3 linked regions of the Homo sapiens genome follow. The protein of the gene in region 2 binds, or shares a complex with, the protein of the main gene of each other region. Each region holds a gene or a part of one and is shown on either strand. Other genes may lie near its edges. A codon is read from its position in the direction of its gene.

Region 1 (9,829 bases), 200 kb from region 2:
CACAAGGGGCAATGACTAAGTGCTATGGTGAATGAAAATCAATGTTAATCAATTTAAGCCTTGAATGAGATAACATTATATAACACTAGATATAGTGTTTTAATTTATATAACATTATAACACTATAATAGCCAAAATAAAAATGACTGACATCAGCATTTTTATGGTGCTACAAGGGTACCGTCTAGTAAGGGTACAGAGCAACTGGAATGCTCATACACTGCAGGTGGGAATATAAAATGGTACAAACCCTTAGTTTCTTTTTAAAGTTACATATATCTACCACATGACCTAGTAATTTCATTCTTAGGTATTTATCCAAAGGAAATAAAAACATATGTTTACAAAAACACTCGTATAACAATGTTCATAGAAGACTTTTTCATAATAGCCAGAAACTGGAGATAACTCAAACACCCATCAACAGGAGAATGGATAAACAAATTATGATATAATTCATCCAATGGAATACTATTCAGTAATAAGAAGGAATAAACCACAGATTACAGTAGACATTATGCAGAATGAAAGAAGCCAGATACAAAAATTGTACATTCAATAATTCCATTTATATAAAGTTCTAAAACAAGCAAAACTAACCTATGAAACTCTTGAGGGGGTAGGAATACAAATGTTTAGATTTTGTAATTACATGAACGTATGCTATTGTCAAAAACTCACTGAACTAAACCCTTAAGAACTGTGCATTTTACTGTATGTTAAAAAACATGAATGAGAAAACTGATTCACACAGTAAAGACAGTTGCCAAAGTAATCTGCAATGAGGAAATCAATGAAGGATCTGGGGTTAGGGAGTAATATAATGAAAAAGAAGCTAAAGGAAGACCTGCACATTATGGTTTTGTACGTCATGTCTTGGTTTAGACTACACTTTAGAGGGGATATGACGGTAGGAAAACCTGGTTGGATGTATTACAGAGACATAAACATATAAATGAGTAAGACCCGAGACCAGAATGAGGGTAATGGAGATGGAAACAAAAATCAAACAGAAAGAGCTTTTAAGTGAAAAATTAGATCTTATAAAAGGACCACGTAATTTTAAATGACTCTAAAGAATTGTATTCCAGACACCTGAATGATTGATGGGATTAATACACGAGATGGGTATTGGGATATGGCTTATGACAGAAGATGATGCATTTAATTTTAGAACCATAGAGACAAGGTAACAAGATTTAAATCAGGAAGAATTTAATTGTAAAATCTTATAGAAAAATATGGAAGAAGTCAGCTACACAGAGACAGCAGTTGAAAATGAATCATTCGGCTGGGCATGGTGGCTCACGCCTGTAATCCCAGCACTTCGGGAGGCCAAGGCAGGTGGATCACTTGAGCTCAGGAGTTCAAGACCAGCCTGGGCAACATGGTGAAACCCCACCTCTACTAAAAATACAGAAAATCAGCCAGGTGTGGTGGCATGTACCTGTAGTCCCAGCTACTTGGGAGGCTGAGTTGGGAGGATCCCTTGAGCCTGGGAGGTGGAGGTTGCAGTGAGCCGAGATCATACCACTGCACTCCAGCCTGGGTGACAGAGTAAGAATGTCTCAAAACAAAAACAAAATGAGGCCAGGCGCGGTGGCTCATGCCTGTAATCCCAGCACTTTGGGAGGCTGAGGTGGGTGGATCACCTCAGGTCAGGCGTTCAAGACCAGCCTGGCAAACATGGCGAAACCCCGTCTCTACTAAAATACAAAAGTTAGCCGGGTATGGTGGTGGGCACTTGTAGTCCCAGCTACTTGGGAGGCTGAGGCAGGAGCATCGCTTGAACCCAAGAGGCGGAGGTTGCAATGAGCCAAGATCGTGCCACTGTACTCCAGCCTGGGCGACAGAGTGAGACTCCATCTCAAAAGCAAAACAAAACAAAAATAATAATAATTCAAAAAGGGGTCAGATATGGTAGCTCACGGCTGTAATCCCAGCACTTTAGGAAGATGAGGTGGGAAGATCACTTGACCCCAGAAGTTTTAGACTAGCGTGGGCAACACGATGAGACCGCATCTCTACAAAAAAATAAAACAATTGGCTGGGTATGGTGGTAGCACACGCCTGTAGTCCCAGCTACTCAGGAGGCTCAGATGGGAGAATTGCTTGGGCCTGAGAGGTCGAGGCTGCAGTAAGCTGTGATGGCACCACTGCACCCTAAGCCTGGGCGACAGAGTGAGAACCTGTCTCAAAAAAAAAAAAAAAAAAAAAAAGGAACTGTAATAAAAAATGTCACTTATATGGTAATTAACAGCTCTTTTTTTTCTTTTTTAAATTAATATTTTCTTCAGATCAGATTAACAGCTATCTCATGTGTAACTACTTTCCTATGTATTTAATTAAGAAATGCAACAAACAAGAGGGGATGGGGCGAGAGGGGGAGATAGAGAGAGATGGGGCACAGAGGCCTGTTTGAAGGCAGAAGGGTGTTGCAGGAAAGAAGACTGGCAATTTTAGAGAAGTACCACATAAATATGGATTCAAAGAAACAGAAAAAATCTAGAATCTTGCTATTCAAAGTGTAGCTCTCAGACATTCAATATCACCTGGGAGTTTGTGAGAAATGCAGAAACCTGTGCCCCACCTTAGACCCACAGAATCATAATCAGCATTTTAGCAAGACCACAGGTGATAGGACACTGTATTTTCAAGTTTCCACACACAGCATTGATTTTTTTGTTCAAACAGTTATTTTATTTATTTATTTTTTGAGACAGTCTCACTCTGTTGCCCAGGCTGGAGTGCAATGGCACGATCTTGGCTCACTGCAACCTCTGCCTCCCAGGTTCAAGCAATTCTCCTGCCTCACCCTGTCAAGTGGCTGGGACTACAGGTGTGTGCCACCACACTCGGCTAATTTTTGTATTTTTAGTAGAGACGGGGTTTCACCATGTTGGCCAGGCTGGTCTTGAACTCCTGACCTCGTGATCCGCCCGCCTTGGCCTCCCAAAGTGCTGGGATTACAGGCGTGAGCCACCACGCCTGGCCTTTCAAACAGTACTTTTTAAACTGCAGGTCTCAACCCATCAGTGGGCAGGTCTCAACCCATCAGTGGGTTATGAAATCAACTTAGAATTGAAAGTCTGAGAGCATATCACAAATAGCAAAGTTTTTGTGCCTTATGGGTTGTGACATAAAATTTCTTAATGTGGAGTGAAATTTTCAAAAAGTGTACAAAACACTTAGCATTAGTAACTTAACTTCTTTGGACCTAGTGGACATGAGAACCCATATGCATTGAAAAGCCAACAGAAGTATTCAACAGGCCGGGCGCGGTGGCTCATGACTGTAATCTCAACACTTTAGGCGGAGGTGAGCGGATCACTAGGTCAAGAGATCGATACCATCCTGGCCAACCTGGTGAAACCCCGTTTCTACTAAAAATACAAAAATTAGCTGGGCGTGGTGGCACACCCTGTAGTCCCAGCTAGTCAGGAAGCTGAGGCAGGAGAATCGCTTGAACCCGGGAGGCGGAGGTTGCAGTGAGCCGACATTGCGCCACTGCACTCCAGCCTGGTGACAGAGGGAGACTCCGTCTCAAATAAAAATATTCAACAGTTAGTGTTTCTCAAGATTTTGACAGTGATCCATTCTAAAAATTAGTATGAACTAGTAACACCCCCTGTGTAATATACATATAAAATAAAATAAAAAATTTCAGGCCTGGCAACAGAGTGAGACTCTGTCTCAAAAAAAAAAAAAAAAAAAAAAAAAAAGGCCAGGCACGGGGGAGGGTGGCTCACACCTGTAATCCCAGCACTTTGGGAGGCAGAGGCGGGCGGATCACGAGGTCAGGAGATCGAGACCATCCTGGCTAACATGGTGAAACCCTGTCTCTACTAAAAATACAAAAAAATTAGCTGGGCGTGGTGGCAGGCGCCTGTAGTCCCAGCTACTCGGGAGGCTGAGGCAGGAGAATGGCATGAACCCGGGAGGCGAAGCTTGCAGTGAGCCGAGATGGCGCCACTGCACTCCAGCCTGGGCGACAGAGCGAGACTCTGTCTCAAAAAAAAAAAAAAAAAAAATCATAAAACAATATCCTTACCTAGCACTATATTATTTCCTATTTTCTCCCCCTCTCTCTTTCTTTTTTTTTTTTGCAGGGGGAGATGGAGTTTCACTCTTGTCGCCCAGGCTGGAGTGCAATGGCGCCATCTCAGCTCACTGCAATCTCCGCCTCCCAGGTTCAAGGGATTCTCCTGCCTTAGCCTCCGAGTAGCTGGGATTATAGGCGCCCACCACCACGCCCGGCTAGTTTTTGTATTGTTAGTAGAGGCGGGGTTTCACCATGTTGGCCAGGCTGGTCTTGAACTCCTCACCTTAGGTGATCCACCCACCTCGGCCTCCCAAAGTGCTGGGATTACAGGCGTGAGCCACTGGGCCCGGCCTTTTTTTTCAGGCAGGGTCTGGAGTGCAGTGGTGCCATCACTGCTCACCGCGGCTTCGACATCCCAGGATCAATCAATCCTCCCATCTCGGCCTCCCGAATAGCTGGGCCTACAGGCATGCGCCCAGACCCTTGGCTAATTTTTTGAATTTATTGTACAGGCAGGGTTTCGCCATGTTGCCCAGGATGGTCTCCAACTCCTGGGCTCAAGCGATCGGCCTGCCTCGGCCTTCCAAAGTGCTGGGATTACAGGCGTGAGCCACCGCGCCCAGCCTATTTTCTCTTTTTAATGGCGCCAGTGACCCATTCACCTATTAAATTGATGTTACGACTCTTATATAGGCCGCTACTCAACGTTAAAAAAAATCATCTTTAACATACTATTTTAATACTAGACCTCAAATCTTAGCTAAGAAGTAGTTTGGAAGGACTGGGGAAGAGAAGGTTAAGAATGACTATTATGTACGGTAAATATGCTAAGAAGCTGATGAAATAACGATAGATTTACTTAGCTACAAAAAGGCCAAACTAGCATTAGACTTCACTTGTCAGCAGTTTTGTTTTTTTGAGGGGGGCGTGGGGGGGGGGGTCTCTGTCTGTCTGAAGGCACAAAAGAGGAAACAGCAGATAGGACTAACGAGGGCTGGAAATTGGTGAAGAACCACCACGGGAGTTGAGAGATGCAGATGAAGGAAACCATGGCTAGTAGCAAGAACTAGGGCAGCGGTAACTAACCTGCCTCAGCCAAGGAAGTGAGGCTGGTCCAGGATGCCAGGCTCAGAAAGGCAGGTACTGACTGAACACACTCCCCGCTTTGGTTCCTGTAGGACGGGTGAGATACCACACCTTGGCAACCACCAGTAAAGGCTCATAGTCTAGCCCTTGGGAGGCCCCGATTTTAGGGCTGTGCTCGGAGGCGACCTACGTTAGGGACTGGGAGAAGCAGGTACCCTGGGAATGAAGAATGGAGAGCAGCGCTTACTCCAAGAATCTGAGAGACGGGGGAGTCAAGCCGCTGCTAGGCCTTCTCTATGACTGCGGGGGTTCGAATACAGTGAGACCCGACAAAAGCGACCCCATTCTGGGTGATAGCACAGTCCTGGCAAAAAAGCAGGCATGGCAAAATACCCCAGGGTCGTCAGGTGGGACCTGGGCCCCGCTCTCAAAGCCCTTCTGGGTCCCCCTATTTCCCACCACCCCTCGCGCGGAGCCCTGAGGCAGTCAGCGTCCTCCAGGCTAGGGAAAGGCGTGGTTTTCCTTCCCCACGTCTCCCGTAAGGCACTGCTGCCAGCCCAGTACTACTGCGTCTTGGCAAGGCTGGAGGTGCTCCCACCTTCACTTTAATTAGCATCTTCTTTCCAGTTTGGGGCTGCACACGGATAAATTGCTGCTCCTACCGCTCCGGTCGCCGCTGCCGCCCTCCAGCACTCTTGCCTGCAAGGGCCACTTCTACTTCCGGGTCACTGTCTGGCTCCACCCCCCCCCCCCCCCCCACTGGGTTCCGGAAAGGCTCAGGGTTGCTCCCGCGTTTCGGTTCAGTGACGTCGTAAATTGGAATGAGGCATCCAGTTTAGCAACAGCAGAGATGACGACTCTGCGATTCTGAGAGTCCCTGGCGAGCCCGGGCTAGCGAAAAGTGGGGGCAGAACGAACTACATCTCCCATCGTGCCAGGAGGCGGTCCCGCCCGTTTCCCCCTGGGAGTTGTAGTCTAACCCCCTCGGATCCAACAGCAACCTCAGTGCGTGAACTCTGTTATCCAGAAGGCCTCGCCCTGCCGCCGCCGAAGCTGGAATTCGTCGGCTAGTAGTTCTCGCCGGCAACTAGAGGAACCTGTTGGCGTGGCCCAGAAGGCTTAGCGGGATTGCACGAGGTTAGTTGCTAAGCAAGGTGGTCTTTGGTCAACTGCCGCCTGGACCAAGGCAACAGGAAGTGAGTACCTCTATTCCGGAAACTAGTTATGAACCCTCCCCGCCCCCCGTCGCCAACATTCCTTCGTTCCCCTAAATCAGCCTCTTGCCCCATTGCTCTTTGCAGGGGTAGAAGAAGGAAGTGTAGCGGGGTAAGGAATGCACCGTCAGGGTCTCTCACAACCCTTTCCCAGCTCTCCTCCCCAACAAACAGTACCTGGGATGGAGCCCTAGGGTAATCGCAGCCACGGGATGGGTCGAGGTGACAGGCTTCAGGGACCACACTTCGGCCTTTGCCCGACCTTCCACAACTTAAGCGAAGAGAGGCCACCAGCCGTAACAGGGCGTTAAAGCCCAGGGGAAGATTGGTCCTTATGACTTCCTGCCTTCCAGCCCTCAGATTCATCGCTACCCCGAGGCTAAGCGCCATGCCTCATATTGACAACGATGTGAAACTGGACTTCAAGGATGTCCTTTTGAGGCCCAAACGCAGTACCCTTAAGTCTCGAAGTGAGGTGAGCAAGCTTCTCTACTTGCTGTTTCTTGACCCCACGCTCCCGGTGGGCCACAACCAAGAAAGATGCCTGTCCTTGTCCTAATATGGTACGTTTTTTGGATTAATGAAATGGTCAATTTCCTGTTCATATCTGCAGGTGGATCTCACAAGATCCTTTTCATTTCGGAACTCAAAGCAGACATACTCTGGGGTTCCCATCATTGCTGCCAATATGGATACTGTGGGCACCTTTGAGATGGCCAAGGTTCTCTGTAAGGTAGGGCTTTCCTCATGCCCCATCCCTATTGGTGTCCAGTTAGCCCAGCTGACTGCAGAGGTGTTTGCATCCCCACCCCCATGCCCAGTCAGTTCTCTGGCAGTTAGCAGTCAGGATGCTCTGATTTACGGTTTTTTCCACTACTGAAGCCCTTTATCTGATAAGTTCAAAAGGCCATCTGAATTAGTGAGATTCAAAGCTAAGTTCTGCTCCGATATTTCTGATATATGAACAGAATTTTCCCTTTTGTCCTGTTTAGCAGTTTGTACACCTTGCCAACTTTTCCCACCACCCAGGTCACCCCCTCACAGTCACATGCATCCCTTCAGTTATGCGATTGTCCACATTAAGCATTCACTGTTTTAGTCCAGAAACTACAGTTTAAGCATTCAAAAATCCTAACTAGAAGATCCTAGGAGAAGCAGCTTATTAATTTTCTTTAATAAGAACAATTCATTAATAAAAGAATACTTCTGCCATTCTTTTTTTAATCTTCCTCTTCTTTAAGTCCTAGGTTCCTGGGAGTTTCTGGGATGTGCCCCAAATGGGATGTGTTTTTCTTATATACAAGTTGTTCACTTTGAAATGGAAGATGCTGCTCCTGTCAGTACTATTACCTGCCTCTATACTTGTTGCTGAGAAGGTAGAGAGTTATCTGGGCACTTTGAGAACATATGCACTCTGCTGGTTGATCCATGTAGCCCTGGTTGATGAATTCTGCTATTGTTTGTGGCTCCATTAGTCTTAAGGACTTCATATCCTTTTTCTATTTTTGATTGCTGTGTCTTTGTGGAATGTCTTGTCATTTCTTTAAGGTTGATAGTTATGCAGTTTTATTTTTACTTTATTTTTATTGCCATTCAGTAACTGCTTAGGAATCTTTCTGTTGCCCACTGTCCATCTGCCCTGACCAGTAGAGTTCAGAATTGGTGACTCTGACTGCAGAGTTAACAGGCGTGCTGTAATACATGAACCTTTTTGGGGACTGTCTTGATGCTTTATGTGGAGCCTGGCTTTCAGTATTGCTGACGAGAGGTAAAGAAATCAGGTTTTAGAGATAAGAGCCAAGTCTTACTGTAATAAAAAGGTTGGATGCAAGCAAACATCTTTTTCTAAGTTTGGTATGTAATCTGATGTGCTCATCATGCCACACTCTGCCAGTATATCTCCAACATCTGCTGACTTCCTATCCTATGGTGACTTTTCTTTGCTTATCAGTATGTTGATGATAGAGTTGTTGAGAAAGCAGAATTCAATACCAGCTTTAGCTAGATATTGTTGATCTCTGAGTACGTATGTAGAGCACTTGTTGCTAGCTAATACATGACTTCCTTGGGTTTCTTGTTAGTTGCAAGATTTGTGCTGTTTCAGCCAACTGCTGTCTCTTGTCTGTTTGCATGTAGACATGTAAGGCACAAACACCAGCATACACAATGGCCTTTGAATGCCTTCCTCAAAGTATTGGGATATTGTTTGCAATCTGTTGAGCTAGAGAATATGAGTTTGATGAGTCATTATGTCCTTGAACTTTATTAAAATGGACTGAATGAAACAGATTTTTTAGCTTGATCCATGTCCCCAACTAGGAAATTTGTCCTTTTTTCCACTAGAGATGGAGACAGGGTAGGGTAGCCCCTTATCAGCTCTTATCAACCTTAAGGCATTACCTTTGGTGAGCATCCAGATCTACTGAATTACTGCTGGTAAATGAACGAGAACATAACCAAAAATAGTTTAGTACTAGGTTACCTTAGGAGGAGGGGCTGAGTCAGTGCAGAGAAACACAGGCTCCATCCAGCTTCTTCATGGTTCTTTCATGTCTGCTGCCTGTCCCACTGCACCAGCAGCTTGTCACCTTTTAAGTCAGAAGCAGTGAATGTGCTGGCAGATGAAATCCAACCCAGATCACTCAGTACTTTGGTGGGAAATCTGACAAGTACTAGCTTATGGTAAAAAGCCCTACTAGTATTTGTAGAGAGAAGAAAGGTTGAACTCAAATCCCAGCTCAACCTGAGTTCTTTGACTTGTTTCCTCCCCAACTTCAATCATGTCCTCCCTCAGATAGAATAGGTCTGTTTCTAGAAAAGAGACCTTAATAAAGTTTTCTCCCTTTTGATGCTTCTTTGTCTTCTCCCCAGTTCTCTCTCTTCACTGCTGTCCATAAGCACTATAGCCTCGTTCAGTGGCAAGAGTTTGCTGGCCAGAATCCTGACTGTCTTGAGGTAACACTGGGCATACCCTGCTCCCTTCCTTATCCCAGTTTTCCAGCAATTATATTTTGGCTTTCTGGGGACCAGCACTCACCAATGACCCACTGGCTGCCCACCAGATCATCTCTGATATGCCAATGACTCTGTTTCTCCCACAGCATCTGGCTGCCAGCTCAGGCACAGGCTCTTCTGACTTTGAGCAGCTGGAACAGATCCTGGAAGCTATTCCCCAGGTGAAGTATATATGCCTGGATGTGGCAAATGGCTACTCTGAACACTTTGTTGAATTTGTAAAAGATGTACGGAAGCGCTTCCCCCAGCACACCATCATGGTATGTTTCTATTACAGTCGGTACCTTTTTATCTTTCCACTTTCCTGCCACTCCGTTTTGCTACATCAGTCCATTTCTCCTCTGCTGCATTATGATATTCCTAGTTCATTTAATCATGATACTGGATGATTATCCATAGTTCTAAGCTGAAAATGTCTATTTGGTCAGTGTAGTATCTCTGACCCTTGGTTCATAGTCTTTGTAAATCTGAT
Region 2 (9,416 bases):
TAGGCTGGGGTTCCAGGATGGCTCAATCATGTACCAGCTTTGTGATGGGAGTCTCAGTTTCCTTATCTCTAAAATGGGAATAACATCATGTGGATACTCCAGACATCCTGGAGCTCAGGAGCGAGCAAGGAGCCAGGAGGGGTGATCTGGGCCAGTTAGTTTACTTTTCCTGACCTTCCCTTCCTCCCAACCAGGAGTACCTGAAGGGCCTCTGCAGCCCAGAACTGCAGGATGAAATCCACTACCCGCCCAAACTGCACTGCATCTTTCTGGGAGCCCAGGGCTTCTTCCTTGACTGCCTGGCCTGGAGCACGTCAGCCCATCTGGTGCCCAGGGCGCCAGGCTCACTGATGATCAGTGGCCTGACTGAAGCCTTTGTCATGGCTCAGAGCCGGGTAGAAGAGCTGGCAGAGCGGCTGAGCTGGGACTTCACGCCAGGACCATCTTCCGGAGCCTCTCAGTGTACTGGAGTGCTGAGAGACTTCTCTGCCCTGCTGCAGTCCCCGGGGGATGCCCATAGAGAGGCTCTGTTGCAGTTGCCCCTGGCTGTCCAGGAGGAGCTGCTGAGTCTGGTGCAGGAGGCGTCTAGTGGGCAGGGGCCAGGAGCACTGGCTTCTTGGGAGGGGCGGAGCTCAGCCTTGCTGGGTGCTCAGTGCCAAGGAGTGAGAGCTCCCCCTAGTGACGGCAGGGAGTCCCTGGACACTGGATCTATGGGACCCGGAGATTGCAGGGGAGCAAGGGGAGACACTTACGCTGTGGAGAAGGAGGGAGGGAAACAGGGTGGTCCCAGGGAGATGGATTGGGGGTGGAAGGAGTTGCCTGGGGAAGAGGCGTGGGAGAGAGAAGTGGCCCTCAGGCCACAGTCAGTGGGTGGAGGGGCAAGGGAGTCAGCACCCCTGAAAGGGAAGGCCCTGGGGAAGGAGGAGATAGCTCTGGGAGGAGGAGGGTTCTGTGTCCACCGTGAGCCTCCCGGTGCCCATGGCTCCTGTCACAGGGCAGCTCAGTCCCGAGGAGCCTCCCTCCTCCAGCGGCTCCACAATGGGAATGCCTCTCCTCCGAGGGTGCCCAGCCCTCCACCTGCACCGGAACCCCCATGGCACTGTGGAGACCGGGGTGACTGCGGAGACCGGGGAGACGTGGGGGACAGGGGAGACAAGCAGCAGGGCATGGCACGGGGTCGGGGGCCTCAATGGAAACGAGGCGCCCGAGGGGGCAACTTGGTGACTGGCACACAGCGTTTCAAGGAGGCCCTGCAGGATCCTTTCACCCTGTGCCTTGCCAATGTGCCTGGCCAGCCAGACCTCCGCCATATTGTCATTGACGGCAGCAACGTGGCCATGGTGTGAGTACCTGGTGGGGCTAAGGGCCTAGGAGAGGGAGGATATGTCCTGAGGGGCTGGCATTGTAGCCAGGGTGCCAAGCCCCTCCTCTGGCCGACCCCCTCCCACTACAGGCATGGCCTCCAGCACTACTTCTCCAGCCGGGGCATTGCCATTGCTGTGCAGTACTTCTGGGACCGTGGTCACCGTGACATAACTGTCTTTGTGCCTCAGTGGCGCTTCAGTAAGGATGCCAAAGTCAGAGGTGAGTTGGGCCTGGTCTTCAGTGTCCCAGGATAGGCTCTGTTTCCACTTTGAGGAGAACCCTATTATGTTCTTTTTCAATAGAGAGTCACTTCCTGCAAAAGCTGTATTCCCTCAGCCTGCTCTCCCTCACACCCTCACGAGTCATGGATGGCAAGAGGATCTCCTCCTATGATGACAGGTACTTGCTCCTCTCCTGGCCCCAGGCTTGATATTGAAGGAGCCCTATGGAAGACTGAGGGAGAGAGAAAAGCTCCTGGTGGTTTACGCTGTTTCTAAGCCTTGGTGGTGGGTAAGGGGCCAGTTATTCCTCTGTGTGCCTTATGATTGGGTAGGTAAACCTGCCCTGCAGGTGTGATGAGATGAACTGTAGACAACCATGTTTGTCTATTCATCATTCATCAAACAAAATGATACCTTGTATTTATATAGTGCCTTACTGTCTAGAAAATACTGGTTTAGTGGAAAGGTGGGAAAGCTGGTTACATAAGTAGCTGACAGATGTCTTCTTATAACCTGAATTTCCAAACATGCAGAGAAATTTCCCTAACATTCTGGAAAAACCAGAGTAAAGGTCAAAATAACAAGTAAAATGGAGAAACACAACGCATGAATAATAGGACTGTACAAAACATGGTATAATAGAAAGATCACTGGATTTAGAATTGGAAGATCTGAATTTGAGCCTCAAGTAGCACTACTCATTGACTTTGACTGTGGAACTTTTCTTAGTGAATTAACCTCTTTGTCTCAGGGTCCTCCTCCATTCATTTACCCTCCTTGTGAATATACGAAAAAGATAAGGTATGTGCTTGCCTTGCTCAAGGTGCTAGGCAAGAGTACAGTGACATTCCATCCTAACTTTGCACAGACCTACTCAAGTGTGGCAGCGGGTATATCTCCAATCTACAGTCGTGGAGACAGAGGGTCAGAGTGGTTACCTGTCTTAGCAAAGGGGAATTAGACCTCAAAGCTGCCAGATGGTTTGAATGAAAATACAAGGCACACTTCTACCATAGTCTGCCTAGGTGGTGTGAGAAATGAGCAGATTTTAGAAAGCCAAGTTAAAAAATTTACAAGTTCTTTATTCTCTAGGACATTATACAGTTTTTAAAAATTAGTTTTTCCAAACCATAGTGATTATATACTTTGTCTTTTCAAACACTTACCTTCTATTCCTTAACAAGCAAATGGTATTCTACAAAAAAGCAGTTTACGTTCTCCCAATGTTATTCTATTTATATCTAGATGTCACAGATTACCCAAGATATGGAATCTTCTTTCCACACCTGCATTGAAACAGAATTGAAACTGAAGATTGAGTTCGTTTTAATGAATGTTAAAGGCATGTGTCTGCCCAGTTGTGTGGGACCTGGTTGGCAGATAACATAATATAAATTGGGAATTCGCCCAGTAACAGTGAATAAGCACAGTGGTACACAGCGTAGGCATACGGAATGAATGTTGCTGAACAACATACTGTGTAATGCGATCATAGTAAAATATGCTTAACTGGAAAATACCATTTGCATACCATAAGTGTACCATATAATTTTTTTTTGGTTTGTTTTTGAGACGGAGCCTTGCTCTGTCGCCACGCTGGAGTGCAGTGGCACGATCTCGGCTCACTGCAACCTCTGCCTCCCAGGTTCAAGTGATTCCCTTACCTCAGCCTCCCGAGTAGCTGGGACTTCAGGTGCATGCCACCGTGCCCAGCTAACTTTTTGCATTTTAGTAGAGATGGGGTTTCACCATGTTGGCCAGGGTGGTCTTGATTTCCTGACCTCATGATCCGCCCACCTCAGCCTCCCAAAGTGCTGGGATTACAGGCGTGAGCCACCAAGCCCGGCCATAGACATTTGTATGTCATTCCCTTAATTTGTTTCCCAGACAGAAGCTCAGAGCCTGATATCTGTCACACCTAATCCTGACTCCCAGTTCCCCCTATACCACACTATCTTTCAAATACTGACTGCTCACTTAGTACTAGGTGCATGGCCTGCAGGAGGAGGTGGGAACACTGGGAACAAGATCTGATTCTTGACTAGAGAGCCGAAAGAAACCATAAATCAAACACTACAGGAACTCAGAGGGAAAGGAGCCCCATTCTGGCTGGGGTTTTGTGGGAAAGGAGAGATTTGTGAGTTTTTGTGTTGAGAAGACTGGGATGGGTTGGATCTCTGTTTCTAAATCTGTTAAAAAGACCACCACCCATCACTTCATGAGTCCTACCCTGTCTTGTGGAATCAGAATTACTGAATGGAGCCCAGGCATTTTTTAAAAAAGTTCCCTTGGTAATTCTGTTCCTTAGCAAGTCTTGGGAAGTGCCTTCCAGATAGAGGAAATAGTTGGAGAAATATGGAAGTCAGCATAAGACATATGTGGAGAGCAGAGTGTAATCTGATTATTGATTTTAGCTGGAGTTGAGAGTGGGTTAGGGAATATTGGGAGAGATAAGGCTGTAAGGGTGATTTGAGCTGGCCTGTAGAAGGCCTTAGCTGCCAGGCCTGGGTGTGTGGACTTTATTTGGTAAATAAAGGGCAAGTGTGGAAGAGTTTTGTGTAGGTGATAAGCATGCTTTCTTGGGGCAGGGCAGGGGAGACTGGAGGGTGGGTGAGTGGTCAGAGGCGGGGACCCCCTTGTTAGGAGGTTATGCATAATCTCAGTTGCAATATCTGAATTACTGGGGTGGTAATGGTGGGCCTGGGAAGGAAGGGAGCAGAGCACAAGGCTTTTCAAAGGAAAGGCATGTTGGATTTGCAAGGGATTGGTTGGGCAGGGTGGAAGACAGAGCTAGATCTTACTGTTTACTAACGAGGCACAAAGTGTTGGGTGAAGGACTATGGTTGGCAGATAGGATGCTACTGGGAGACCACCTTGGATTCATCTTTGTTTCCTCTCTAGGCCATGGCACTTGCATCTAGTCAGTTGCCTGTAGCTGGGTCAAGGTGAGGTAGGGGGCCAGATCTCCATCACCAGAAGTGGCCTATGGGAGACAGTAAAACTTCTGGGGTTGGGGCCTTGGAGAGTCCCAAATGGTTGCTGTGGTTTTTACTTTTATTTTTGTAGATTTGGGGGATACCAATACAGTTTTGCTACATAGATATATTGCATAGTGGTGAAGTCTAGGCTTTTAATGTAACCATGATCCAAACAGTGAACATTGTACCCAGTAGGTAATTTTTCAACCCTCTCTCGGTTGCTGTGGTTTTGGAGACAGGTTCATGGTGAAGCTGGCTGAAGAGACAGATGGGATAATTGTCTCCAATGACCAGTTCCGGGACCTGGCGGAGGAGTCTGAGAAGTGGATGGCAATCATCAGAGAACGGTGAGGGAGCCCTCCCGCTGAGAACTGGGCACAGATGCAGATGTTTTTCTAAAGCCAGCTCTGCTCTGGCCATGGGGTGAAAACTCTGGGAAGGAGGTGAAGTTTTCTTGAAGGATGGAGCCAGCAGCTTCTGGTGATACTGGTCTCGGTTGTCTGGGAGGTGGGCAAGGGCCCCCTCTGTGACCACACATTATCTTTCGCCATCCAGCCTGCTGCCCTTTACCTTTGTGGGAAACCTCTTCATGGTACCTGATGACCCACTGGGGCGAAACGGCCCCACCCTGGATGAATTTCTGAAGAAGCCAGCCAGGTAATCAATCCCCTAGACTACTTACAGGCAGCCCCCACCCCTGGCCCTCTCTCAGCAGGCCCAGAGACTTGGGTGGAAGTGTGACCTCAGTTTGGGCCAGCTTAATTTTGCAGTGGTTTGAGTTGCATTGGCCTTGGCCTTTATAAGCTTCCCAGGGGATCCTGACATAGAACCTCCTTGCTGGGAGGGAAACACCTGCTTCCTGTTTCTCTTAATCAGCATGTTTGATGGAGTTATTTGGAAAATGGTTGCTTATACTGACAGCCAGTTGTATTCAGCATGCCTTCTGCTGACCATTACATAAGTGATTCATTTAGGACTAGAACTAGATCATAATAGTGGCAGAGTTCACCCTGTTTCTAAAAGAACGGCCCATCTTCCCTTCAGAAGTGGGTTGATACTGCCACTCAGTGGTCAGCTTCAGGAACTTCAGGATTTCTCCCCCAAAGCCAGGAATAGGCAGGACAATTACGAGAGGGGTGCCCACTAAGATCTAATTTCCCCCCCAGGATGCTCATCAGCTCTTTTTGGTCTGTTTCTTCCCAGGACACAGGGGTCTTCTAAGGCTCAGCATCCTTCCAGGGGCTTTGCAGAACATGGTAAACAGCAGCAGGGGAGAGAAGAGGAAAAAGGTAGTGGTGGCATTCGGAAGACCCGGGAAACAGAGCGGCTCCGGCGGCAGCTGCTGGAGGTGTTTTGGGGTCAGGATCACAAAGTGGACTTCATCCTGCAGCGGGAGCCATACTGCCGGGACATCAACCAACTGTCTGAGGCCCTGCTCAGTCTTAACTTTTGAGCCTCACCTGCTTGAGTGGCTGCCGCCCTGTCAGCTCCAGCCGCCTCCAGCTCAGCCCTTTCTGTGAGAGTCCCTCTGCTGCTCACTCTGATCCAGAGGCACCCTGAGTTGGTGCTTTGGATCAGGGAAGCCACTTTGGGACAGGTCCATAAAGTGAACTGATCTTACCGAGTCAGGACCTCAGCCAGCTCTCAAGAGGTTCTGCTCAGCCTTAACTTCTCAACTTTGCCTTAGCACAGGGTTTCTGTAGGGAGTGGGGGCTGCTAGAGGGGATTAGTTCCGGAGACTGAGACTGTTGGCTCCACCTCCAAGCTGAGCTAGGGTGGAGGGCAGGGTGGGCAGGAAGTGACAGGAAGTTAAGCTGTTCCTCTCCCTGGCTGCTGCTCTGGATGGCCAGAGAACAAGATGCTCCCTTGCTGAGCTCCTGGGAGCGTGGAAGGAGATGCTAGGCCCTGGCACAGTGTTATGTGGACTGGGCCACGATAGGGTGGAGTGAGCTAGTGAAGAAGGCAGAGGGAGACTTGGCTTCTGGTCTCAGCTATGCCTGTTTTGTGACCTTGATTGAGTTGCTTGGGCTTTACTTCTGCCTACAAATCAGGGGTAAAAATACCTGTTGGGAGGAGAAATGAGAACATAGAGGAAAGCCTCTTGGAGGAAAGGTGCTTGGACCAAGTCTCAGGTGTGTCTGCCTGTGGCTGCACAGGCTCTCTAACCGAAACCTCACTTTCAGAGAGATGTGGGTCCTTTGTCTCCAGGATCCACACCCTAGATTTTAACACTGCATTCTCACTATAACGTGCCCTATAATGGCTGCATCCCTTTTGAGCAACCTCCAAAATCTACATTTACACAGTAGGTAAATTAGGGATGACTGCATTATCAAAATACTCTCAGGGTTCCTATAAATGGCAGCTCTCCTGTTGTATTCAGGTGTTGTTTACAGACTAACAAATGTGTTGGCAAATCCCTGGTTAGATGCACTTCCTGGTGTTGAGATGAACACGTCGATTTTTCACCAATCGATGAAGCCATGCTCTGCAATGACAATATTAATGTGATCCGACCCTAACATTTTCTCTATGGAAGACGTATGTTGCATAAAGCAAGGCACACTTCTGCTTTATGTGTGTGTGTATGGGGATGGGAGGACTTAACGGAAGTTGAACCAGTTGGTTCTAGATGAACCAATTATCTGGAAAATGAAAGAACCAGAGTTGGAAGGCACTTGACTGGCCACCAGACCAACTCTGCTGTTACTGACATGCTTTCTTCACCCTGATTCCTAGAGGTCATTGCCCTGGATCTGCTTGAAGTCCTCCTGTGCCAGGGAATTTACTATCTCCAGGGTAGCACATTCCCTGTGTAGACGGTATTAATCAGTACTCCTTACTTTAGTGCAGCCTAAAGTATGCTTTTCTGTTACATCCACCTTTGAGGCTGGTCATACCTCCAGGAACAATACAGAGCCAGTCAACTTCCTGGAATCCAAGACCAGATAAAGAAGTAGGACAGGTGCCCCTGGGTTCTGTTCTGTGTGGGCCTGTGGGGAGTCTCTAGACAAGATCTTTTCCAGGCCCTGACTTCTGCCTCCCTCTGAGTGGCACAGGGAGTTGAATACTGCATGGCGAGTGTAATGATGATGGGGAGGGTCCTTGTGTCCTCACCCCTTCCTTTTTGGTGATTTACACCACTGTACCATACTGACCCAGGCTGGGGGCAGGTGTGTTGGAGACAGGCTGGTCAAAGAGGTGACAATGATTAAGAGATAACCCAGCGGTCCCTGAGAAGAGATTGGTTAGTATGGCCTGAACTGGTGGCTGGGGGAACTGTGTCTGGTCAAGTTATGGCAGATGTCACAGCTTTAGGTAGGTAAAAAGGGTCCTAGATGAAAACCTTGGAGTTTTTTTTTTTCCTGATAGGGTTGTTTATACTTCTTGATTGGTTTCTTGCCATTTTCACTTTCAGTGATGGTGGGTGTGCAGTAGACCAAAAGTGTCTTCTGCCCTTTTGTGCTAAGGGCCCTGGTTGACTGAGTGGCCCCAGTCAGATGAGAGGCAAGTCCTAAGCTTCTTATAGACAGGGATGTTGACTTTGTTCTGCTGCAGCCTGATAAACTGGGACCACTGTGTGGTTAGTAATGCACTTGCCATTTGGTGACACAGACTGAAGGCTATCCTACACCTGGGCCTTACCTCTTCCTCTACTGGCATCCTAATGGCACTCTGACAGCATCCAGGGTGACTACAGGGCCCATTGGAAATGGATCATCATTCTCTCTTCTAGTGTCTATCTTTATCATAACCTGATGTCCCAAACTTGTGACAAGTTCTTTTGGCAACTGAAGGACCAAGAAGGGAAACGGTGATGAGAGAGACTGCTCATTGTAACTTTCAAAACCCCGTCTTTGGGGAAGAATCATCTAGGGTGACATTCCTTGAAGTAAATCCCAGGAGAATCTAGGCCAAAGAGATGAGCCAAGGTTAGTGAGACAATTTATTTTTATTGCCTAAACTGCAGAGCATTCTCTACACAGCGTAAAGGAGAAGTGGGGCAGCTGCAGGACATGTAGAGAAACCAAACTGGGAAATCTTACAAGGAGTTGAAAAGATTAATGTCCCAACCTGATGAGATTACGGCCTTGAGACAATAAGGTGGAGCAACAGAACAATGGGAAAGAGGACTGGGAGAGGAATCTAAGAACCAGATGGCTTCAGCTCTCTAGAGGAGCTGAGCCTATTCACAGTGCCTAACCTGGAAGCCTGTGAGGAACAGGCCTCAGGCCCTTGCCACGACCTACTTAGGCTACAATTTCCTTTAAGGCAGCCCCTAGCTCTGGGAAGGAATACTGGTAGCCAGTGGCCAGTGTTCGCTGTGGGATCACCTTCTGGCCCTCCAGCAGCATGATGGCACGCTGTCGCCCAAAGACAGCTTGCACCACAGCGCTGGGGAGAGGGATGAAGGCTCGGCGGCCCAGGGCAGCACCCAAGGTCTGGGCAAACTCAGCATTAGTGGCGGAGGATGGAGCCACTCCATTCAGGACCCCGTGCACGTGGTTTGCTTCAAGGGCATGGGTCAGGATTCCTGCCAGGTCCCCGATGTGTATCCAGGGGAAGAATTGGTGGCCTGAGCCGATGGGGCCCCCCAGGCCCAGGCGAAAGGGCAGCAGCATGTGGCCCATGGCACCACCCCCACGGCCCAGCACAACCCCTAGAGCAGGAAAGAGGGAAGGTACAGGGGTCCTCTCAGCCTTGAAGGAGCCCACTGCTCCTCCTGGTTTCTGTTTCCCCTTCCTCACTCTCCCCATGCTGACTTGGCTCTGTAACAGAAGTGAGCAGTATGGCTGTCTTTAAGACCTCACACCTTCTCATCTGCAGGTTGGCTAGAAGTGGTGGCATCCTC
Region 3 (9,699 bases), on a different chromosome or scaffold from region 2:
GATTATTTTTGCATCAGAAGTGGGATTAGAACTCCATGTGTGGGCATATATTTCAGCAAAGCAAATAGAAATATCCAAACCGATTCACCAAAACAATTATCCAACATTGAAGCAAGCCCTGTTGTCAACTAAAATGTATCACTAAAAACATTGCAAAAGAAAAGACAGGAACTACAGAATAGACAGGATAAATCCTATCTATAAATAATAGTACCACAGACAAAATTTTATACACCCAGCACAATGCAAATCGTCCCCCTGTAAACAGAGACCAGTTTAGTGAACTGAATAGTAATGTCAAGATGGGTATCAATTAGTTAACAGACCCCATTAACTGGTAATCTACAAAGAAAGTTCTTAAACTCACAAGTGGCAAGTTTTGGAAGACAAGGTTTTATTACTCGCTAAGAGGAGAATATTTTTAAAACATAAGTAGGGAGGAAAAAAACATGTTTTCTAGGACCCGAGGACAAAAAAAAAATTCTCCCAGAGGTCCTTATTACAACACTTTATACATTAATAGATTAAAAGTTTGTAATTCCCAAATTCAAAAGTGATATAAAATGAAATTAAAAATATGGCTCTGCCAATAAATGTTAGGAAATAAGATTTTATCACTCTACTAAAAAAAATAAACTTTATTGACTTCTCTGGAGGGTCCATCCAAATTTAGATAGACCAAATAATCCCTATATTATATATATTCTTATAAAAGTGGAGGTTAACAACCCAATTAACGAGTTTAAAACAGTTTTGCTGTTTCAAACCAGGGAAAAATATACCATAATAAACTTCATAAAACTAAAATTTCTAAGCATATTGCCTACAACAAATTGAAACAAAGTATTTAAATGTTAGATATGTAACATATGAAAACAATTATAGGCCAGGTGAGGCAGTGGCTCAGGCCTGTAATCCCAGCACTTTGGGAGGCCTAGGCCGGCAGATCGCTTGAGCTCAGGAGTTCGAGACCGGCCTGGCCAACATCGCGAAACCCCATCTCTACTAAAAATACAAAAAATTAGCCAAGCATGGTGGCACACACCTATAATCCCAGCTACTTGGGAGTCTGAGGCAGTAGAATTGCTTGAACCTGGGAGGCAGAGTTTGCAGTGAGCTGAGATCGGGTCACTGCACTCCAGCCTTGGGTGACCCTATCTCAAAAAATTTTAAAAAAATCTTTTTTTAAAAGGATTATGTCTATGTATCCTTTTCCCTGAAAATAAAAGTTGGATTTATAAGACAATCAGGGAAATTTGAATACCAACTGGACAATAGATGATATTAAAATTGTAATTTTTTTTACAAAAATGTGATCATTGTACTGTATTATGTTAATAAAACATAGTTCTTATGTTTTAGAGATACTAAAGTACTTAGTAATCAAATGGTTGCTGAGATTTGCTTTAAAATAACACATTGGAGTTGGGGACACATGGGGAATAGGGAGAATAAATGAAACAAAACTGGCCATATTTTCAAAACTGTTGAAATGATGGGTACAAGGGGCTTCATCATTTTTTTCTCTCTACTTTTGAGTATGTTGAAAATATCCATAGTAAGAAATAAAAAAATAAAAAGCATATGTATTTCATACTAAAAATCAACACTAGTTGGTGAAGAATTTGTCATAATAGAAAAGATAAGAACAGAAAAAACATAACAAAGCCTTCCAACCATGTTATTTGGTGTAGTGCTAGAACATGCTAGAATGTTCCTTCCTTTTCTATCCTCCACCCTCTGCTCTCTTCTCCTTCTCAGAGATTTCTTCAGTGACCAGCAATGACTTAGATGATTTCCTCGATACCCATAACTCCCAGCAACTCAGAAACAACCTTCAAATTGTTGCCCCACAACATATTAAAGAAAATTTTAAATAAAGGAACACATTCAAGCACTTTTTAAAAACGTTAGAGTGAGCTGAAAGGGTTTTTGCTCTAAAGAAATTTTTAAAAAAATACATTGCGTCCTCTACCTCATCCATCTAAAACACTTACCTTTGTGTGTTTTATTACACGTATATTGGGGGTGAGTGACTGGAGTTTTTGTTAGGTGCGTGATCAAAAGTTTGCCGACTGGTCGGACTTGGTGGCTTATGCCTGTAATCCCAGCACTTTGGGAGGCTGAGACAAGTGGATCACCTGAGGTCAGGAGTTCGAGACCAGCCTGGCCAACATGGTGAAACCCTGTCTCTACTAAAAATACAAAAATTGGCCGGGTGCGATGGTGCATGCCTGTAATCCCAGCTACTCGGGAGGCTGAGGCAGGAGAATCGCTTGAACCTGGGAGGTGGAGGTTGCAGTGAACCGAGGTGGAGCCACTGCACTCCAGCCTAAAAAGTTTGCTGACAACCATTTTAAACCCTGGGACACAAGTCAAAGTGTTTAAGAATGGGCCAAGTGTAAAAAGTACTGTATCGAGAAAAGTAATTGAGCAGAGCACATAGTGACAGAAAGGGTGGGAGGAAAGACTGGCCATTCATTAATTCAACAAGGCGTTCATTCAGTTCATTCAGAAATTAGATGGGAAGGCAGAATCCGCCAAGAAGGGAAAGAGACTTCACAAAAAGGACTTGGTGATGACAGATTGTGAGGAGGATTAAAACCCTGCCTGGGGGAAAAGATGAGTTTGACTCCATGGACAGGACACACGCGGGAGAGGAAGGGCTTGGGATCAAGGGAAAGGCCTGGGCAGCGAATGTGGACCTGGAAGCCATCTTTTTAGATGTGCAGCTGTCCTCGAGGGAGCAAGCTCTCTTAGGGAGAAACTGGGAAGAAAATCACTCAAGAGTCTTAACCCAAACCTTGCAGCGCATCTGCATTTAGACGAAAAAAAAAAAAGGCAAACGGAAACAACAGAAGCAGTGGCCCGAGACGTGAGCCACACTGCTTCAAAGGGATTTAAGAGAGTTGTCCCAAGGCAGGCGGTCAACTGCGCGCGCCACCGTAGAGAGACCACCCGGAGGGAAGGCCCGCGGCTGCTACAACTTCAGGAACCTGGAAAAGGGCCACCCCTGCTACGCGCCAGGCATCAGAAAAGCGGTGATGAGGGGCATGGGGGTGACCGGGAAGGGAGGGACAAGCAGAGAGACCTGCGGCTCGCTCCGGCGGAGACGGACCGGGGGCCCAGGGCGGCTGGGTTACTGGCTCCGCCACGTCTAGGGAAGGAGGTAGTAGGGAGGGAAAGACTCAAGATACCAAAGACGGGAGGCTCTTTCCTTCCTTCCCAAACCTGCCTACCGCTTCTCTAGGCCCTGGCTGGCTCCAGAGCACTTTATTCTTCTGATTCGTGCGGGCGGGCGGGGAAAGGGGTGGAGGTTGAGCCTGGTCTCCTCCAGGCACTAGCATTTTAGCCATTCTCGAGAAAATGTCTGGAGGTGCCGGAAGGAAGGGAACTGCAAAGGTAGAAGCGCGGGCCCTGCAGAGGCTCCCAGAGGGGAGCAGAGAAGGGAGTGGCTGGAGGCGGAGGCTGTCAGGTGCGGGGTCCCGGCGAAGCCGTGCCCCTCCCAGAACATTGCCCGCCTGGACAGTCCACCCCGACCACGGCTGCGGACAGCGCCCCTCCCTCCGGGTGCACTCACCGCTCGGACTGCGAATAGTTGCACCGGCCCAGCAAGTTGAGTTTGCAGAGATGCAGGTTATCGCAGGGTCTCTGGCAGTACTTGCGACGGCAGACCCGGGCTCGAGTGGTGGCCACCACCGATCGGGTGATCCCGGCCTCGCCGCCGGTCTCCAACACCACAAAGCGGTCGGGCCCGGCCACCTGCAGCACCTCACAGAGCTGCGGCTCAGACAGCGCGATCTCCTGGAGCAGCGCGTCCAGGGCCATGCGGCCCCCGTGGGCGCACAGGATTTTGGTGATGAAGCAGCACACCTCCGGGTCCGCCATGGCGCGCTGGCTGTGCTGGCTCTGCCGCGGCGCGGGACTCGGTTCCGCGGAAATCGGAAATCGAAACTTACAAGTGTCCAGGGGCGGGCGCGGGCGGTGCTACTGCTGGGCGCGCCCGGAGTCAGCGAGGGCGCGCTCTCCGTCGCCGTTAGCCCAGCCCAGCGATCCACTCTCGGCTCTCAGGTCAAGAGGCTAGATCTCACCGACCGGGTCCTAGTGGCAGGTTTACAGCCGGCCGCAAGGGCAACTGGGTGGAAAGAAAGAGAACGCGCGGGCAAATCTGCTGGTGACCGCCTGGGGTGGCCCCCTCTCGGTTCTAGGCTCGGCGAGGGTGAGGTTCTCCAGCCGGGCTCCGCGAGCCTTCTTTAGAAAGAAGAGAAACTAAAAGCGATCTTGGGGCTCTGGCCGGTGTTTTATAAGCCAGCCGACTGAGGCGTGTGACGCAAGTCCTGAGAGCCCTGTTGAGGAGTGCGCACCCCACCCATTCCCGGAAAGAGCAGACCCTAGCGAGCGCTTCCTGCGAGCCGTGCGCTCTGCCTCTGTTGGTAGTGAATCTTCCCAGCAACTCCACATGGTAGATATTATTATCCTCACCCTGAACTTGAGGAAGTAACTTGCACGAACACGCACTGGCATCAAGCGGAGCCCAGATGCCACCGAGTTTCCCCAAATCGCGTCCCCAGGCCCCAGATCGTGGTACCCCAGGCCCCGATGTGCAAGTTTCTCCTCCACCACCGTGCCCTCTTAAAGAACAACGATTGCCACTCTCCCTCGTTTCTGCCTTCTCACGAACTTTTGGACAAACCACTTCTTGACATGGTCTTGCTTACCTAGAATCGCTAACTCGGTGCCCTGAACCACTGCTTGTACCTCAATCACGGTGGACATGCTAAGACATATCCCAAGATTTCAGATCGGTTCCTCCCCGTAGAGATTGGGACAAGAACTTTTCCACCGTGGGGACGTACTTTGACCCCCAGAGTTGACATAAAGATTGTTTTTAAGTGAAAACATTGAGCTACAGAAGATGTAGAAAGAAATCTTAATGAAACTTCCCTTATCTGACTAAAGCAAAACCTCCCGAAAACATGGTGCCATTAAAAGCCTCTCGGAGTATTCAGCTGCCAGGAAGACAGACTGTCCCATTACCATTAGCACCAAAAAACCCAATGGGCTGGGTGCTGTGGCTCAGCCCGTAATCCCAGCGCTTTAGGAAGCCGAGGCAGTGGGAGGATTGCTTGAACCCAGGAGTTCAAGACTAGCCTGGGCAACATAGTGAGCTCTCTTCAATAATAATAATAATAATAATAATAATAATAATAATAATAATAATAAAAACAACCCGGGCATGGTGGTGTGCAGCCGCAGTCCCAGCTACTCGGGAGCCTGAGGTGGGAGGATTGCTTGAGCACGGGAGGAGGCTGCAACGAGCCGGGATTGTGCCACTGCACTCCAGCCTGGGGGATAGCGCTGAGACTTTGTCTCAAAAACACAAAACAACCCAATCAAAACTTCCAAACTCTCCTACTGAAGCCCTAAAACTTTCCTTTTTGTTAAGTTGAGGTATATAAACCTTTACTTTTGAGTTTTCTGTTACTGGAAGCTCCTGCATGCATGTGTAAATAAACTTTGTCTTTTCTCCTATTTATCTGTCTAGTGCCAGTTAATTTTTAGGCCCCCAAAGACAGGACACAAGTTGAAGAGAAAAAAGGTTTTTTTTTCCAACATCTTCAAATAAAATAGATGGGTCATTTGATCAGATAAGAAATACATCTTTTTAAAAAATAATAGATTCTGGTTGCTAACTTAGAAATTCTTCAAAATGATTAATGAGAATTCTCCTCAGTTTTGTCATTCATGGTATATAAACCCTCTTTCAGGAATAGAGTACTTTGTTATGAAAACCAGCCAAACATGGGGGCCACATAGGATCATCTTAGGATGTCTAAGAGGGACATCTTGTTCCCTCTAGTTGCTGCTTCTATAGTTGTCTTTTAATCCACTTGGCCTTATTTGTGGTCTGACAGGTTCCCAGGGACCTTTTATTATCAAATCAACTAAGTTCTAGATGTTTATTGACTATCTTCTATGTGGTATTTACATTAGTTAGTAATGTAAGGACATGCAGAAGTTTAAAAAACAGTCCCTGCACTCAAGGAGCATGTATGCGAAGACATGAAAAAATGCATGGAAATATAAGCAAATTCATGGGTAAATGCCACAATGGGAATATAGAAGATGAGAGACTGAAGAGTCTAGTTTGGCTACAGTGGTTGGGAGTACAGACATAGAATCTCCTCCAATTTGAAGCCATGAAAAATGATTTAAGGGCCAGGTGCAGTGGCTTGTGCCTGTAATCCCAACACTTTGGGAGGCCAAGGCGGGAGGATCATGACCATCCTGGGCAACATACTGTGAGATCCACCTGGGCAACATAGCGAGACCTCATCTCCACTAAAAATAAAAATTAGCCAGACATAGTGGTATGTGCCTGTAGTCCCAACTACTTGGGAGGCTGCGGCGGGAGGATTTCTTGAGCCCGGGAGTTCAAGGTTGCAGTGAGCTACAATTGTGCCACTGCACTCCAGCAAAGGCAACAGAGGAAGATCCTTTTGGAAAGGGAAGAGAGGGAAAGGGAAAGGGAAACGGAAATGGAAAGTGACAGAGAAAGGGAAAGGGAAAGTGAAAATGAAAGAGAAAGGGAAATGGAAAGGGAAAGGGAGGGAAAGGAAAGAAAGGAAGGGAAAGGAAAGGAAGAGAAAGGAAAGGAAGGAAGGGAAAGGAAAGAAGGGAAAGGAAAGGGGAAAAGGAAGGAAAAGGAAAAAAAGGAAGGAAAAGGAAAAGGGGAAAAAAGAAGGGAAAGTGAAAGGAAAAAAGAAAGGGAAAGTGAAAGAGAAAGGTGATTTAAGGAGTTCTGGGAAGGGAAAAGGAGACATTTTGAAAAATTTTGAAATATGTGCCATCAGAGATTGGGTTCTCCAGGAAGGAGATCCTGACATGGAGTTAAGAGTGCAGAACTTTCTCTGCACTTTTTCTGGGGCATAATGCCAGAAAAAGTCAAAGGAAAAAGCATGATTGATCCATGGGGCCTATCAGACTTTTGTGCGGACCTAACAAAGTCTCTGCCAGCCCAATGAGGAGCTCTGGAGTAGGAGTCCAGCTTTGGACAGAAAAGGCTAGGCCCTTGTACTGCCTTGCTCAGTCACCGGTGGGGGCCACCAGAGAAGTGGATGACTTCAGCTCGAATGCTGGGGCAGATCTTGAAAGAGCTAAAGCTGGAGGATATTGGCTAAACATGCTCCTCAAAGCTGGGCTGCAAGCTTGACCTGAGTGCCACCCTGTGTCAGCTGTAGTCCACCCTTTGTACTACATGGCTTTCTTTATCCATTTGTATTTAGGGAACAGGCTTTTCAGGGTCACTCTTCCTACAAGGAAGCTTACCAGAGAGAAATTAGTGGAATGAACTATAGTCCTTGTCACTGCAGTTGGTCTCAAGGCCACAGCTGGTGGTCTGGTCCTCATCATATCCCTCTACCACTATCCATTCCAATCCCTCTCACCCTTGGCCACCACCTCAGCTGCTCTCAGTAGCTTAATCTGGTCGGGTGCCCTATTTGAAAGTGGTCTGAGCACATCTCAGTCCCAGCTGGGCAAAGGATTACCAAGAGACACCAAAATAGGTCACCAGAATTCCATACATATTCCACCTGCCCACATTGTGTAACAACAGCCACACCTCCTGCTGACCAGCAACAGTTACCTCGAATAAGATGGCCATTCCCTTTCTTACTTGCTAGTCTCTGACCATTAGGAGGCCAAAGTACCTGGTGACAGCCATCACAGTAGTCCAGTGGGATCTCTGTGGTATCTCCAGGCAAGAGTGTGCCCCTTTGGGGAACCAAGACCTATAACTCTGCAGAGCCCAGCATTGCTGGGAGAGGAAATTGCAGGGGGTCATTGGAATTATACTAAGTAGGGCCACTCAGGCTTACCCATTCTTTCCAGACTCATGTATGGACACAGTACCATACTAACTTGACCGATTCAAGGCATATACCACGATGTTCTGGAGTCTGTGTCATCATTGTAGGGTATCAGCTCCATTCTGGTGCTTGACTCCATCTTTAACTAGCCATTCCAATACTTCATCCTATAGCTACTGGGTGGTGAAGTGTATGATAGGACCATGGATAGTACCATGTTCATGGGTTCATTCCCTCCACTTTCTGTGCCATGAAAAGATTCACCTGATAAGATGCTATGTTAAGTGTGATTCCATGTCTGTGGATCGGGCAATCTTTAAGTCTCCAGAAAGTGGTGCTACTGGCCGGGCACGGTGGTTCAAGCCTGTAATCTCATCACTTTGGGAGGCTGAGGCAGGGGGATCACTTGAGGTCAGGAGTTCCAGACCAGCCTGACCATCATGGTGAAACCCTGTGTCTACTAATAATACAAAATTAGCCGGGTGTGGTAGCACACGCCTGTAATCCCAGCTATTTGGGAGGCTGAGGCAGGATAATCGCTTGAACCCAGAAGGCAGAGGTTGCAGTGAGCTGAGATCGCACTATTGCACTCCAGCCTGGGCAACAAGAGTGAAATTCCATCTAAAAAAAAAAAAAAAGAGTGCTACTACTGAGGCTCTGCAGGGAGGAAGGGCAACCCCAAATCCAGAATAACTGCCTCTTCTTGTGAGAACCACCGATGGTTCTGCCAGGACAAAAGGGGCCCGATGCAGTCTACTGGTCCCCAAGTAGTCTATTGGTCTCCTTAAGGAATAGAGCTTAGCATTGGTCTTTATGGCTGGCAGATCAGACACTCAGAGGTGGCAGTAGCTGTGTTTATTTTGGCAAATGATAATCTATGCTGTTAGGTTCTTGCATCGCTTCCATCTCCTGGCCACCATGGCCTCTTTGAGCAGCAGTGGGGGAGGGGGCCTGTCACTAAGCCTGGCCAACATTAACTGGCCAAGTTATTTTGTGTAGTTGGCACATCTTTTGTGGGTCTTAATGTGATATGAACTGCCCACTTCCATACATCTATTCATATGCTTCCTTTTACTTTTAGGCTCCCAAACTCCCAGCCAGGCCACCATCACTGCCCATGAGACCATGTATGTTCTAACCCTAGGCCATACTCCTTCCATACGAAGTGATGACTAGGTACACTCTCAAAGCTCCTCCCGCTGGGGAGATTTTCCCTTACCACTGTTTTTCAAGGACTTCCCTGAGTGAGACTGTAATATAGCTGCCATGCATTTTCAGCTTGTACCCACATATTAAGCTAGCCCATCCTTAACGCAAACTTGGTCTTTTTCCCTCCTCCTTTAGCTGGTTATATGGGACCCCCTCACATGACCACAGGTGAGGCTGGGGGAGGGGTGCTGGTGCAACCGTAGTGAATGACATGGAAATCTGGGCTAATTGCTCATGCAGCTTGAGTGTGCGTGTGCCCTCTGGTCCCACTTGTGTTCAGTCCCAGATGTACCAGTTTTATCCTATGATGGCTTTGATACTGACCCGCCCTGACCTTATCACTTGGTGTGTCTAACAGGACGTAGCTGATGGCAGCCAGTTTTGAATCCATGATCACTTGGTGTCTCCACCAGGGCCCAGTAGAAAGTAGGAGCTGTTTTCTGAAAGGAGTGTAATCCTTCACTGCAGTTGGCATGACCTTGTTACACTATCCAAGGAGTCTGCATTGTGATTCCTCTATTGGGACTCACCATAAATGCCATACTACATCTTTTTCCATCACTGACATCTCCAACATGAGAAGCTGTGCCAGATTTTACAGTCCACTCAAAAGGGCTGC

The links.
Region 1: the proteins of KHNYN (region 2) and NEDD8 are in contact, whole or in part, in an NMR structure (PDB 2N7K), measured with the Homo sapiens proteins. Residues at the interface, in NP_001277186.1 of Homo sapiens: Gln649, Asp650, His651, Lys652, Asp654, Phe655, Gln658, Arg659; in NP_006147.1 of Homo sapiens: Thr9, Lys11, Glu12, Ile13, Glu14, Glu32, Lys33, Glu34, Gly35, Arg74.
Region 3: the proteins of KHNYN (region 2) and ZC3HAV1 are in contact, whole or in part, in a crystal structure (PDB 9BGL), measured with the Homo sapiens proteins. Residues at the interface, in NP_001277186.1 of Homo sapiens: His651, Lys652, Asp654, Phe655, Gln658, Arg659, Pro661, Tyr662, Asn677, Phe678; in NP_064504.2 of Homo sapiens: Glu5 (codon at 3,876), Val6 (codon at 3,873), Cys8 (codon at 3,867), Phe9 (codon at 3,864), Lys12 (codon at 3,855), Ile13 (codon at 3,852), Ala16 (codon at 3,843), His17 (codon at 3,840), Glu29 (codon at 3,804), Ile30 (codon at 3,801), Ala31 (codon at 3,798), Leu32 (codon at 3,795), Leu113, Glu115, Phe118, Ser127, Gly128, Leu129, Asn130, Glu133.

The regions. Positions count from the first base shown.
Region 1 is NC_000014.9:24,226,524-24,236,352, forward strand, and holds the start of NEDD8 (ubiquitin-like protein NEDD8), read right to left. Parts: upstream 5,845-9,829; 5' UTR 5,745-5,844; coding exon 5,727-5,744; intron 5,345-5,726; exon of another isoform or gene 5,129-5,344; intron 1-5,128. Other genes in the region: NEDD8-MDP1 protein, read right to left, coding at 5,727-5,744; GMPR2 (GMP reductase 2), read left to right, coding at 6,677-6,817, 6,956-7,075, 9,214-9,297, 9,444-9,617. UniProt on the Homo sapiens protein: Ubiquitin-like protein which plays an important role in cell cycle control and embryogenesis via its conjugation to a limited number of cellular proteins, such as cullins or p53/TP53.
Region 2 is NC_000014.9:24,431,269-24,440,684, forward strand, and holds part of KHNYN (protein KHNYN), read left to right. Parts: intron 1-194; coding exon 195-1,342; intron 1,343-1,453; coding exon 1,454-1,584; intron 1,585-1,667; coding exon 1,668-1,764; intron 1,765-2,831; coding exon of another isoform or gene 2,832-2,892; exon of another isoform or gene 2,893-3,103; intron 3,104-4,799; coding exon of another isoform or gene 4,800-4,803; coding exon 4,804-4,911; intron 4,912-5,119; coding exon 5,120-5,221; intron 5,222-5,767; coding exon 5,768-6,017; 3' UTR 6,018-8,814; coding exon of another isoform or gene 8,815-9,224; 3' UTR 9,225-9,416. Other genes in the region: epimerase family protein SDR39U1, read right to left, coding at 8,815-9,224.
Region 3 is NC_000007.14:139,105,444-139,115,142, forward strand, and holds the start of ZC3HAV1 (zinc finger CCCH-type antiviral protein 1), read right to left. Parts: upstream 4,278-9,699; 5' UTR 3,889-4,277; coding exon 3,581-3,888; intron 1-3,580.